Linked DNA regions of Homo sapiens. The protein of the gene in region 3 purifies or fractionates together with the protein of the main gene of each other region. This does not show direct contact. Each region holds a gene or a part of one and is shown on either strand. Other genes may lie near its edges.

Region 1 (3,500 bases), on a different chromosome or scaffold from region 3:
CCTCCCAGGTTCAAGCAATTCTCCTGCCTCAGCCTCCTGAGAAGCTGGGATTAAAGGCACCTGCCACCACGCCCGGCTACTTTTGTATTTTTAGTAGAGACAGGATTTCACCAGGTTGGTCAGAATGGTCTTGATCTCTTGACCTCGTGATCCATCCACCTCGGCCTCCTTAAGTGCTGGGATTACAGGTGTGAGTCACCGCGCCTGGCCAATTTTTTGTATCTTTAGTAGAGGGTTTCGGTATGTTGGCCAGGCTGGCCTTGAACTCCTGACCTCAAGTGATCCACTCACCTCAGTCTCCCAAAGTGCTGGGATTATAGGCATGAGCCACTGCACCCAGCCCTCAGCTTTGTCTTTTTAATAGCTGTTTGACCTGGACAACTGGATCAACTCTCTGAGCCTAGTTTGCTCATCTATGAGAAGGGATGATAATAGAATCTACTTTCAGGCTGTGAGGGCAGACAGCATCAATTCAGCCTGGTCAGCACCCGTGCTGCACTAATGGTTAAAAATGTGTATTTTCGGCAAGGCTCGTTGGCTCACGCCTGTAATCCCAGCATTTTGGGAGGCTGAGGCGGGTGGATCACCTGAGGTCAAGAGTTCAGGACCAGCCTGGCCAACATGGAGAAACCCCCATTTCTACTAAAAGTACAAAAATTAGCCAGGTGTGGTGGCAGATGCCTGTAATCCCAGCTGCTTGGGAGGCTGAGGCAGGAGAATCGCTTGAACCTGGGAGGCAGAGGCTGCAGTGAGCCAAGATCGCGCCACTGCACTCCAGCCTGGACAACAAAGTGAGACTCCATCTTAAAAAAAAAAAAAAAAAGGTATATTTTCACCCTTGCCTACATCAGGGCTTTTGTGATTACAGGAGACGACATATGCAAAATATCTAGAAGCGCGCCCAACCCATGTTGGGTGCACAATAACTGCTACTTTAAAACGTTCCCTGCCCAAGGCCACACAGCTAGTAAGAGGTAGAATTATAAGATTCAAACTCGGGCCAGGCATGGTGGCTTATGCCTGTAATCCCAGCAATTTGGGAGGTCGAGGCAGGTGGATCACCTGAGGTCAGGAGTTCAAGACCAGCCTGGCCAACATGGTGAAACCCCTTCTCTACTAAAAATACAAAAAGTAGCCAGGCATGGTGGCACATGCTTGTAATCCCAGCTACTCGGGAGGCCGAGGCAGGAGAATCGCTTGAACCCGGGAGGCAGAGGTTGCAGTGAGCCGAGATCGTGCCATTGCACTCCAGCCTCGGCAACAGAGTGAGACTTTATCTCAAAAACAAACAAAAAAAACATTCAAACTCACATCTATTCGACCCCAGGTCCCCTTTCCACTGGGGGGACCAGGGGAGGACACATTCAAGCTGGACCTTGAACAACTGGCAAGACTTTTAGGGAAAGTAAAAAGCCTAAGTGAATTGGGCCCCATGACGAAGGGGCTGGCGAACACAGGAAAATGAACTCACCCCTTCCCCTGTCTGAGAAGCAAGCTGGCCCACTACAAGGGCCCTGCTGGAACAGGGCTGCTGTCCCTGTCCCAGCCTGGAACCCTCAGATCACAGCAAGAGCCAAGGAGGTCTAGGTCACCCAGGGGAGCAAAGAGCCGGGTGCAGGAGGTCGCCTACCTTTGCCATGACCGTTGCCTAGGTTCTGGTCGTTGGCGCTGTTGGAGTAGTAGAAGCCGTTGTAGAAGGGCAGTCCGTAGGAGCCGGGCAGCAGGAGCAACGGGACCAGGAGCAACAGGCCCATCTCCTCATGCCAGGGTGACCCGGGCCAGGCTGGGGCCCCAGGGCAAACTGGGAAGGGGAGGAAAACAAGGCAATTAGAAAAGCCTGGCTTCCAGGGCCCACATCCCCTCTGCTCCAACACCACTCACTCGCTTGCTCAACAGCTCACTGCGGGACACCTGCCGCCTACGTGCCAGACGCTGTTCCCGGAGCTGAGAAGACAGCAGTGACAAGCTAGATGGGGTTCCTGCTTTCAGGGAGCTGTACCCCGAAGGCAAGACGGGAGATCAGCAAAGAGACAAATCATAAGAAGGAAGTATCAGGCAGCTAAAAGCAGAGAAAATTAAGCAGGATGATATGACAGGCTCAATGTTTTTCAAGCCAGAATTTGAAAGGTTATGGGCAGGCTGGGCATGGTGGCTCACGCTTATAATCCCAGGACTTTGGGAGGCTGAGGCGGGCGGATCACCTGAGGTTGGGAGTTTGAGGCCAGCCTGGCCAACATGGAGAAACCCCGTCTCTACTAAAAATACAAAATTAGCCAGGCATGGTGTCACATGTCTGTAATCCCAGCTACTCGGGAGGCTGAGGCAGGAGAATCGCTTGAACCCAGGAGGCAGAGGTTGTGGTGAGCCAAGATCATGCCATTGCACTCCAGCCTGGGCAACAAGAGTGAAACTCTATCTCAAAAAAAAGAAAAAAGAAAGAAAAGAAAAGAAAGGTATGAGCAGCACTTTTTAATGACGCCAAATAAACTAGACTAGAATAGAAAATATCAGGGTGAATAGAGGGTATGTTAAGTAAAGATGAGTCCTGCATTGTGAACCCTTTTTTTTTTTTTTTGAGACAGAGTCTCGCTCTGTCGCCCAGGCTGGAGTGGAGGTTGCTCACTGCAACCTCCGCCTCCTGGGTTCAAGAAATTCTCCTGCCTCAGCCTCCCGAGTAGCTGGGACTACAGGTGCGTGCCACCAAGCTCAGCTAATTTTTTGTAATTTTAGTACAGACGGGGTTTCACCGCGTTAGCCAGGATGATCTCAATCTCCTGACCTAGTGATCAGCCCGCCTCGGCCTCCCAAAGTGCTGAGATTACAGGCATAAGCCACTGCGCCCAACTCAAAAATAATTTTTGAACACCATGCTAGAGGTCTTGGGAGCTATTCCAGTTTGGGTGGGCGCTCAAAAGAGGTAGCCAACCCATGGGCTGTAGTTTGATGATTTGATTTTTTTTTAAATATTGTATTCAAATATTTTGTCTTGATTACTAAGATTTCTAGCAAACTCCCTTCCTCCCCCGCTTAAATCTCACACCAAGGGCTACTGCCTCACTCATGTCACCCTAGCCCTGCTCACCTGCCATTTACTGCGTGCTCTCAACAATTAAAAGATGGGGTCACTCCTTGAAGGAGCTTGGTCCAGGGAGGGGGCAGAGTCGTGGGCAGGCAGTCTTGATTGCTGTGTGTTGAGTACCACGATGGAGGTACAGAAACGGGAATGTCCAAATGAGACTGAAGATGCAGGAGTTTGCCAGGTGGAGAAGGACTGACAGGTTTATCCAGTAGGGCACTGCCACTACAAAGGTGCAGATGCCAGCAAGAGTCCCAAGCCTGGGGGTGCTGGGGGTATACAGGAGGTCCTCCATTTGCCCCACACACCCACCAGGTCCATCGTCTGTCCTTCTCTGACACGTATTGGTCCCTGTTGTCCCAGTTCCCCAGGCCTTCTGGCTTCCAGTGGGATTGAGCCAATGGGAGGCACTCAGAGAAGATGG
Region 2 (3,500 bases), on a different chromosome or scaffold from region 3:
AATACTCATGTTCACTGTAAAGGGACAATAACATTTCCAAATCCAGTAGAAGAGATATTTCTACTTAATGGCTTGCCTAAAATAATGTTTTAGATGTAATCTTGCATAGACAGGACACATAACATAAGCCCCCAATTTAAATGCTATTTTGAAATCTCTTGTTAATTAAAAACTTAATTAAAAACAAGCCTCTAAGTCTAGTAATTAGTCTTTGATTGTGAGGGTTCTGTGATGAAACGGACATGAAATAACGAATATTCTTCTCTCACCCCAGCAGTTAGTGGTCCTTTCAAATCAGAGTTTAGGTAGATGGGCGGCGCTGTGTGTGGAAGCTTGAAAGCACTGGGTCCTCCCCCTATGTACCTGGCCTGTATATAAACAGAAAATTTTAGTTTCTGATCTAATATTATAGAATCACTTTTCATCGATACATATCATGTTAATTCATAAAAATAACATAAAAATACCCTTTAGCCTTACACCATTTACAGTGTGTTCATGTTAGCTTTAACAACTTAAAACAACTTAAAATATCCAATATTAATATTATTAAAGATCCAATATTAATATTGGATCTTTGCTTCATAGGTAGACATTTCTCTCACAAAAGTCTTATTCAGAAAATATAAAGAATAGTCCAAGTAAGAATTGGCATGAATTTGAAGATAAAACTAGTACATATTTATCTCTTTTAAACTCTTCAAACTGTTCTGTGGTTACCCCCATAGTCAAATCAATTTTATTAACTGCATTAAGTACTTTCAATCCTTTTGATTATAAGATACCATTGAACTAGAAATTTTACCCTCTTTGAGAATAACAGAAATGAGTGTTCTACAAAATTTTTCTTCACATGTAATGTAATTTATACTGATTGCACCATGCATATATCAAACGCTTGTAACAAAGTGAATGCTCTATAAAATTCATATGATTATTAAGGTTGCTTCAATATGGCCCTTTGTTTCTCACTACTGTCTAAACCTATTAGAACTAGCTGTTTTTTTCTGTAGTTACTCATTTGACAACAATTCACATTTATATTCAAATATCAGGATCCAGATAGAATCAGTCATCTAAGTCATATTTGATGCAATTTTGGTTATTCAGTCATCCAATTGGTAAATATTTGAGTATTATGTTCTAAGTACATTAAAATATATTTGGGGGCACTGAAACATAGTTTTATCTTCCTAGAGTAAATGTGAAAATTTTTGAATGTGTAAAAAGCTATTCTCTTTAAGTGTACAAAATTGGATTAATTCTATCACTAGAAATAAAAATGATGAGGAAAAAATAACCCTCCTTCATATGAAAAATGTGTAAAGTATATCGTCATTAGTCTGTTATATGTATGAATACTATATTTTTATTCCTAAGAAAAATGCAAAGAATTTCAGAACTCTATTATTTGTCTTTCTCCTTCATAGATATAATAGATTATCAATAGCAATGTGTAAAATATGTATCATGTCTCCACTTCTGTGATATTTTAAAGCAGAAAATATCAAATGTAAGGTTACCAAGACTTTTTCCTTGAAAAATTTCAGATGTAGGAGTGAATTTTAATAACTATAAAATTATGTCTAATTAGAAAAATATAATATTCTCTGATAGTACACAATGTATCCATGTGAAAAGATTGATTTTCATAGAAGTGAATAGTTGAGCATCAATTTTAGGCTTAGAAAGCCTAATCATGGGTTCAGAACTAGACTGAATATGTGGGATCCTATTCAGATTCTTCAGGAACACCAATGACTGTGATTGCAAAATAATTTGAATGTAGATTGGCCACATTGGATATTTACAATGTAAAAGTGCATTTTGATGAAGTAACTTTTGTAAGTCAGAAAAATAAATAACTATTCAATAAATAAGTGAATAAACCAAGAAAAATTGTTTCATAATACTAAATTGATACTCTTAATTTAGAGAAAAAATATTCTAAAATTATCAGAAAGAATATTCAGATAATTCACTGAAGTAAATCTTCACAACTTTAACTGGATAATTGTATCATTTAGCTATTTCCCTTAAAAGTTGCCAACCTCAGCTTATAGTAATAAAAACTAACAAATATTTTTAAATTTAAAAGGCTGTGGATTGTCAGGCTATATGTATCAATGAAATGTTTTAAACTAGTAAGGATATTATGACAGATAGAAAAATATTTCTCAAAAGTGATTTAATTACAAAGAAGTCCAAGGACACAGCTTATCTGGCTCATCATTTAAACATTATTGGAAACAACATACTTATTTTGATAATAAAGTACTGTACTCTTTTATATTTAAAAAATACACTGACCAAGATTTTTACACTAAGCTGTGTATCTAGATTTGCTAATACCTCAACACATTTGATTAGAGCATTATTTTACATGAATTATACATATTTATGAGATACTGTGTTTTGTTATGTTTTTATACATGTATACATTGCAGAAAAAATCAAAGTATTTAGCATATCTATCACCTCATACATAGTTATTTTTTTGTGGCGAGAACATTAAAAATCCTTTTCTAGCTATTTTTAAATATACAATACAATATTGTTAACCACCATCACCTAACTGTGCAACAGAACACCAAAACCCATTCCTCTTATCTGACTGTGACTTTGTACCCATTGAACAACACCTATTTTCCTTCCTCCTCCCCTCTCCACCCTCTAGTAACCACTATTCTACTCTCTACTTCAATATTAACTTCTATAGATTCACATGTGAGTGAGATCATGTGGTATTTGTCATTCTGTGCCTGGATTATTTCATATATGACAATATCATCCAGCTTTATCCATGTTGCCTCAAATGACAGGATTTCCTTCTTTTTTATGGCTGAATAGCATTTTCTTTATTCATTGTTGATGCACACTTAGGTTGATTCTATATCTTGGCTATTGTGAATAATGCTGTAAAAATCATGGAAGTACAGATATCTCTTCAATGTACTGATTTCCTACTTATTATGTATCAATTAAAACAAAAAACATTAAAAGAAGGATTCCATGTCTGAAGTGATGAAAACAAAACTATCTTGTAAGTATCCAGTTCCTACCAAACCAAAACCCCATAGAACCACACTGTAAGGAATACTGGGAGGAAGTGGGTAGAAAAGAAAATGTCTCACCAAACTACTTTTCAGCCATATTTCTAGAAGCTGTGCATGTATTGGTCTTCTCCTTGCATATATTTCAACATTGAAAGTCAGTAGCTTTACTTTATAATAGACCTTTATCTATCTATATATCTATCTATCCCCTGAAGAAGACCTAAACAATTTGCTGTGTGATATCAATACTAAAACAATTTTTAAATGAGTTTTTCGTTTGCTTTATGTAAACAAAATTAGATAATGAATCATTTTTCAATAAAAAACATATAAAAACATGTTTATAAAAGAACTGAGCAAATAAATATGTGTTTTCTAAGATGTGTTACACTCAGCTTCAGGTGAATGCAGTCCATAATTGTACTTTCTCTTTAGAAGAGGCTA
Region 3 (4,097 bases):
TTAAGAAATGCAAGTAACAGGTGCAATTGTCAATAGTAATTACTCAAGTCACCTGCTTTCAATATAAAAGTTGTAAATACATACAATGAAACAATCAACTATGGAGGAATTTCCATACTCTAGTAAATAGAAATAAATAATAAAATCTAAATCTATTTGCATGAAAATGGATCTGAAGAACTATTATTCTTTCCTAGAACCAACAAAAAATAGAATGCTTTGTTTGAACCGTGGGCAGTAATCTGTTTTGGTAGTGATAAGATAAAAACATCCTGTACTATATATGTAAGAAACTAAAACCTCTATCATCTAGGCACAAATTTAAATGTACAATTAGTGGAAACAACTAAAACAGTCCTTCAAAATTCTTAGTTTTGAGGACAGTCATAACTTCTCAAGATATAAAAATATGGGTACATTCTTAACATTATTTCTCATTAAAAGTAACCAACTATTTTGCTTTAAAGTTCATTTACTTCCCTCATTAGAATTTATTTCTCAGTCTATTTAAACAAAGTATCTGGATAAAAGCTAAAAATTTCACCTTGAGGTGTTTGGATTTTATAGGACAATATGTAAATGTTTCAATTTTCCAATTTTTATCTGCATGCCAGAAATCATGTATATGTAGCCATTACATCCCATAAATAAGATGTCTAGTCAATGATCTTTTACAATATAGTTTTAACAAATCTATGTGGGCATATAAATCAATTTCAAAATACCTACATACACTACCCAAAAAACTGTGGATGTCAGGTGAAAGTTTTAGCCAGCATTTTATTTCAACAGATGCTCAATACCTCGAATTTTGAGGCCCCATGAGCTTTTTTTTATGAACCAATCAAAAATCCAGCCAAAATCTTTTAAAATTCAATCACCTGGATGTTTAACATGCTATACACAATGTATCTTGATAAGTTACTGAGTTTTTCATTTGAATCCAGATGGTTCCTGTCATGGAGACATAACTACATTTTATTGCCCTGTTGCTTTAGAGACATTTTTAAAATTCTCTTTTTGTAACACTGAGTTAAAATAACAACAACAAAAACAGCACACATAACTATATAATAAGCCCAGTCTAAGCCTCTCTAACAGATAGACAGCCAATGTGATAAAATTTTATTTTGTAACAAAAGCTTCAGTTCTTGGAAAATTTACAAAGAGTTGCATAGGTTTATATATTTTTAATTAGACAGCTGTTTCCTAATGCCCTTCATCCTTAACCCATTGCAAATCTATTCAGATAGTGTTGTCCTGTGAATGGAACAAAAAGATACTTATATTGCAAAGGGATCTTGGGCTCAGAGGATTAGGAGAAACTTTAAATGAGCCAGCAGGAGAAGAGGGAGAAAAAAATCCAATCATGTTTCAATTCTCATGTATTAGAAAGACCTGCAAAAAGTTTTTCTCAACCACATGGACTGGCAAAGCTATGCAAGTAATTTTTTGAAAAAATCTCTTTTCTAATAAATATCACAGAGCTTACAGTTAAATATCTGTTGGATATATACAAATGCTGTCATAGCAAAAGGACTTTCAAAATTCTATAAACCTAATAACTAATATAGAGAAAATAGAGCTTGATTTTTTCAAGACAAAGATACTTCCTTTAAAGTCAAATGATATTATCTATGTATCAACATTTCAAACATAGACGTTTTATTTAAATCCCATTATGTGCACTTAAATATTTGAAGTAATTTAATGAAGGTGTGAAATAATTCCTCACTTAAAAAACAGTAAAGAAGTTGAACAACCAGGAAATGATAGCAGTTTTGCCTTGTTAATGTAAACTAGACTATTTAGTATTGTACTGCAAACCCAATTTTTTCAGATCCACACAAAATTGTTGAGAGTGGGAGAGAACTGAACTAGTTCCTACTTACAGAAAAGATGAAAACATCGTCTCTAAGTTTAAACATCTACACAGCAACCTACTCCATCATTATGCTGGAGCACTGGAGGTGCTTTGCCAGGAATTAGAAATTTAAAACTTTTATGGGGATACCTCAAGACCCTGAGCGCGGGGGAAAGCCCCGGAACCCAGAAGGAAGCTCCCACAATTGCTTTTCAAAGCGCTCACATGGCCCTGGACCAAGCGATTTCAAAGGGTTTCTGCGGAGGACGCATCGGGGAGCAAACTCTTTGACTGTAGGATTAAGACTCTGGGCACTTGGGGAATTCGTCTTGGTCCTTTGCATTTCAGGAAGGGGCCGTCAAATTTTAAGGTTCGAGGTTGGAGAGCCTCCAAAAGTACTTGAGAAGACTCAGAGAGAAACTTCTTTCAGCCTAACAGAAGAAAAATGCGAGGAGTGAGGCCGTGGGTGATGAGGGAGAAGTAAGCGGGAGAAGGTGGTAATAAAGGTGGTGGGCGACATCCTTGTCACTGTTTCTTCCAGGACGCGCCCAGTGTCCCCAGCCGTCTGCTGCTTTTGGATCTGGGTATTTTCCCAAGTGCACCAAGGGGCGACAGGGGCAGGTGTCCCCGCCCAGGGCGACCCTCCCTTTGCCTCTAGCCTGCCCTTCAGGGTCCCCGTCCCAAGCCCCCTGGGCACATCCCAGGCGCGCATCAGGGGCAGACAGGTGCGCCCGGGCCGCTTACCCCGGTGATCACGGCGGCGTCCCCAGCGCGGGGCGTGAGCAGCAGCGGCGGCAGCAGCAAGAGGAGCAGGAGTGGGGCGCAGCACAGGCTCCTCATGGCGCCCTCGGGACTGGGCGGCCGCCGGAGGCAGTTGGGGGCGCGGGGCCCGGGTGCGCTGGGTGGAGCGCGGAGCGGCGGGCGGACGGGCGCGGCGGCTCCCGCGAGCCTCCGGGCCGTTATAAAGGCTAGCCCCGCCGTGACTCACGCCGGCGCCCGCCCGGCAGCACACGCGGGGGGCACGGCGCGGGCACACACCCCACGCCCCACGCGCACACGCGCGCCCGCCTCGGCCCGGCCGGCTCCCAGACGAGCACGTGCTATGCGCGGCCCCCCGCGCCCCCGCCTCGGGCGCCACGCAGGCAGCGCTCCCGGCGGGGCGCCCCGCTCTGCGCCGTTCCCTCCGCCGTCGCCCAGCCACCGCCTTTCGCACGCGCCGGAACCGCTTTTGTGGTCTCCGAGACACTCATTTGCTGTCCTGGTTTCCAAAGCTCCACGTGCTCAGCGCCGAAAACTTGCAAATCATTTGCTGTACAGATGTTTAGGGGTCGCCTACTACGTGCGGGGCGCTGTGGACACATAGGGGGCGGGGGGTGGGTGAGGGGGACACAGCAGCCCCTGAATCCATTCGTTTGTTCAGCAGGTCTATACTGGGCGCCCGCTGCGTGCCAGGTACTGCCACCGGCTCTCTCCTCACGGTGGAATAACTTAACAGAGAAGACAGACATCAATCAAATACCCTGGAAACGTGGAAGGCAGGGGAAAGAACAAAGGGAGAGCAAAATCGCCCCAATCCCACATCACCCGCGACGTGAAAGGATTTGTCCTTCCAGCTGCGGGACTCCTATTTGTTTATTTCAAGTCAGAGGCCTTCCCTTTATGCCCACATCTGTTCCCGACCCTCTCCTCTGATTTTCCTCACATGTATTTCCTCCCCTCTTCAGCCCCGCGCCAGCTCCAGGCACAGCCGTTCAGGGTGATGCCAAAGGGAAATGAGAACGCCTGGTTTCGAGTGCCAGCCTGAGGCCCCTTAAGCCCTAGGTACGCAGCTCTCTCTTCTTTCTTAAACTTTCCAGCCCAGGAAAATCACCCTTCGGTTTTACAGATGCGATAGGGCGTTATTGTGATTCCTTCATTCACGTAAACATGAATTGAGTGTCTAGTGGGTTCCAGGCACACCAGGAAAGAATAAGTGACAGATTTGCCCTCCATCTCTCATCCTAGCCTGGCTCCAAAAACTGCAGCCTGTTTCCCTCAACAAAAATGACGTCAAGAATACCTAGATGTGACCACACCGAACTTGCTTGCCCGTTTTGGGAAACCCAACTTTCTTCCTGAATAGTCAGAACCTCTGGCTTTCCTGGTCTCTTAAGAACCGCAAACTATTGAAAAGCAGATGCGTCTTTCAGCCTCTTTAATAAATGCAGTAAGGAGAGTTGGGACAGAGTTACTT

Evidence for each region. The genes of interacting proteins can lie anywhere in the genome.
Region 1: the proteins of PROK2 (region 3) and HAPLN3 purify together in Homo sapiens (affinity purification with mass spectrometry; one large-scale study listed by BioGRID and IntAct). This does not show direct contact.
Region 2: the proteins of PROK2 (region 3) and LRP1B purify together in Homo sapiens (affinity purification with mass spectrometry; one large-scale study listed by BioGRID and IntAct). This does not show direct contact.

What each region holds. Positions count from the first base shown.
Region 1 is NC_000015.10:88,885,545-88,889,044, forward strand, and holds part of HAPLN3 (hyaluronan and proteoglycan link protein 3 isoform 2 precursor), read right to left. Parts: exon of another isoform or gene 1,882-3,500; intron 1,802-1,881; coding exon of another isoform or gene 1,755-1,801; coding exon 1,631-1,754; intron 1-1,630. UniProt on the Homo sapiens protein: May function in hyaluronic acid binding.
Region 2 is NC_000002.12:140,234,517-140,238,016, forward strand, and holds part of LRP1B (low-density lipoprotein receptor-related protein 1B precursor), read right to left. Parts: intron 369-3,500; coding exon 270-368; intron 1-269. UniProt on the Homo sapiens protein: Potential cell surface proteins that bind and internalize ligands in the process of receptor-mediated endocytosis.
Region 3 is NC_000003.12:71,782,349-71,786,445, forward strand, and holds the start of PROK2 (prokineticin-2 isoform a precursor), read right to left. Parts: upstream 2,801-4,097; 5' UTR 2,705-2,800; coding exon 2,609-2,704; intron 1-2,608.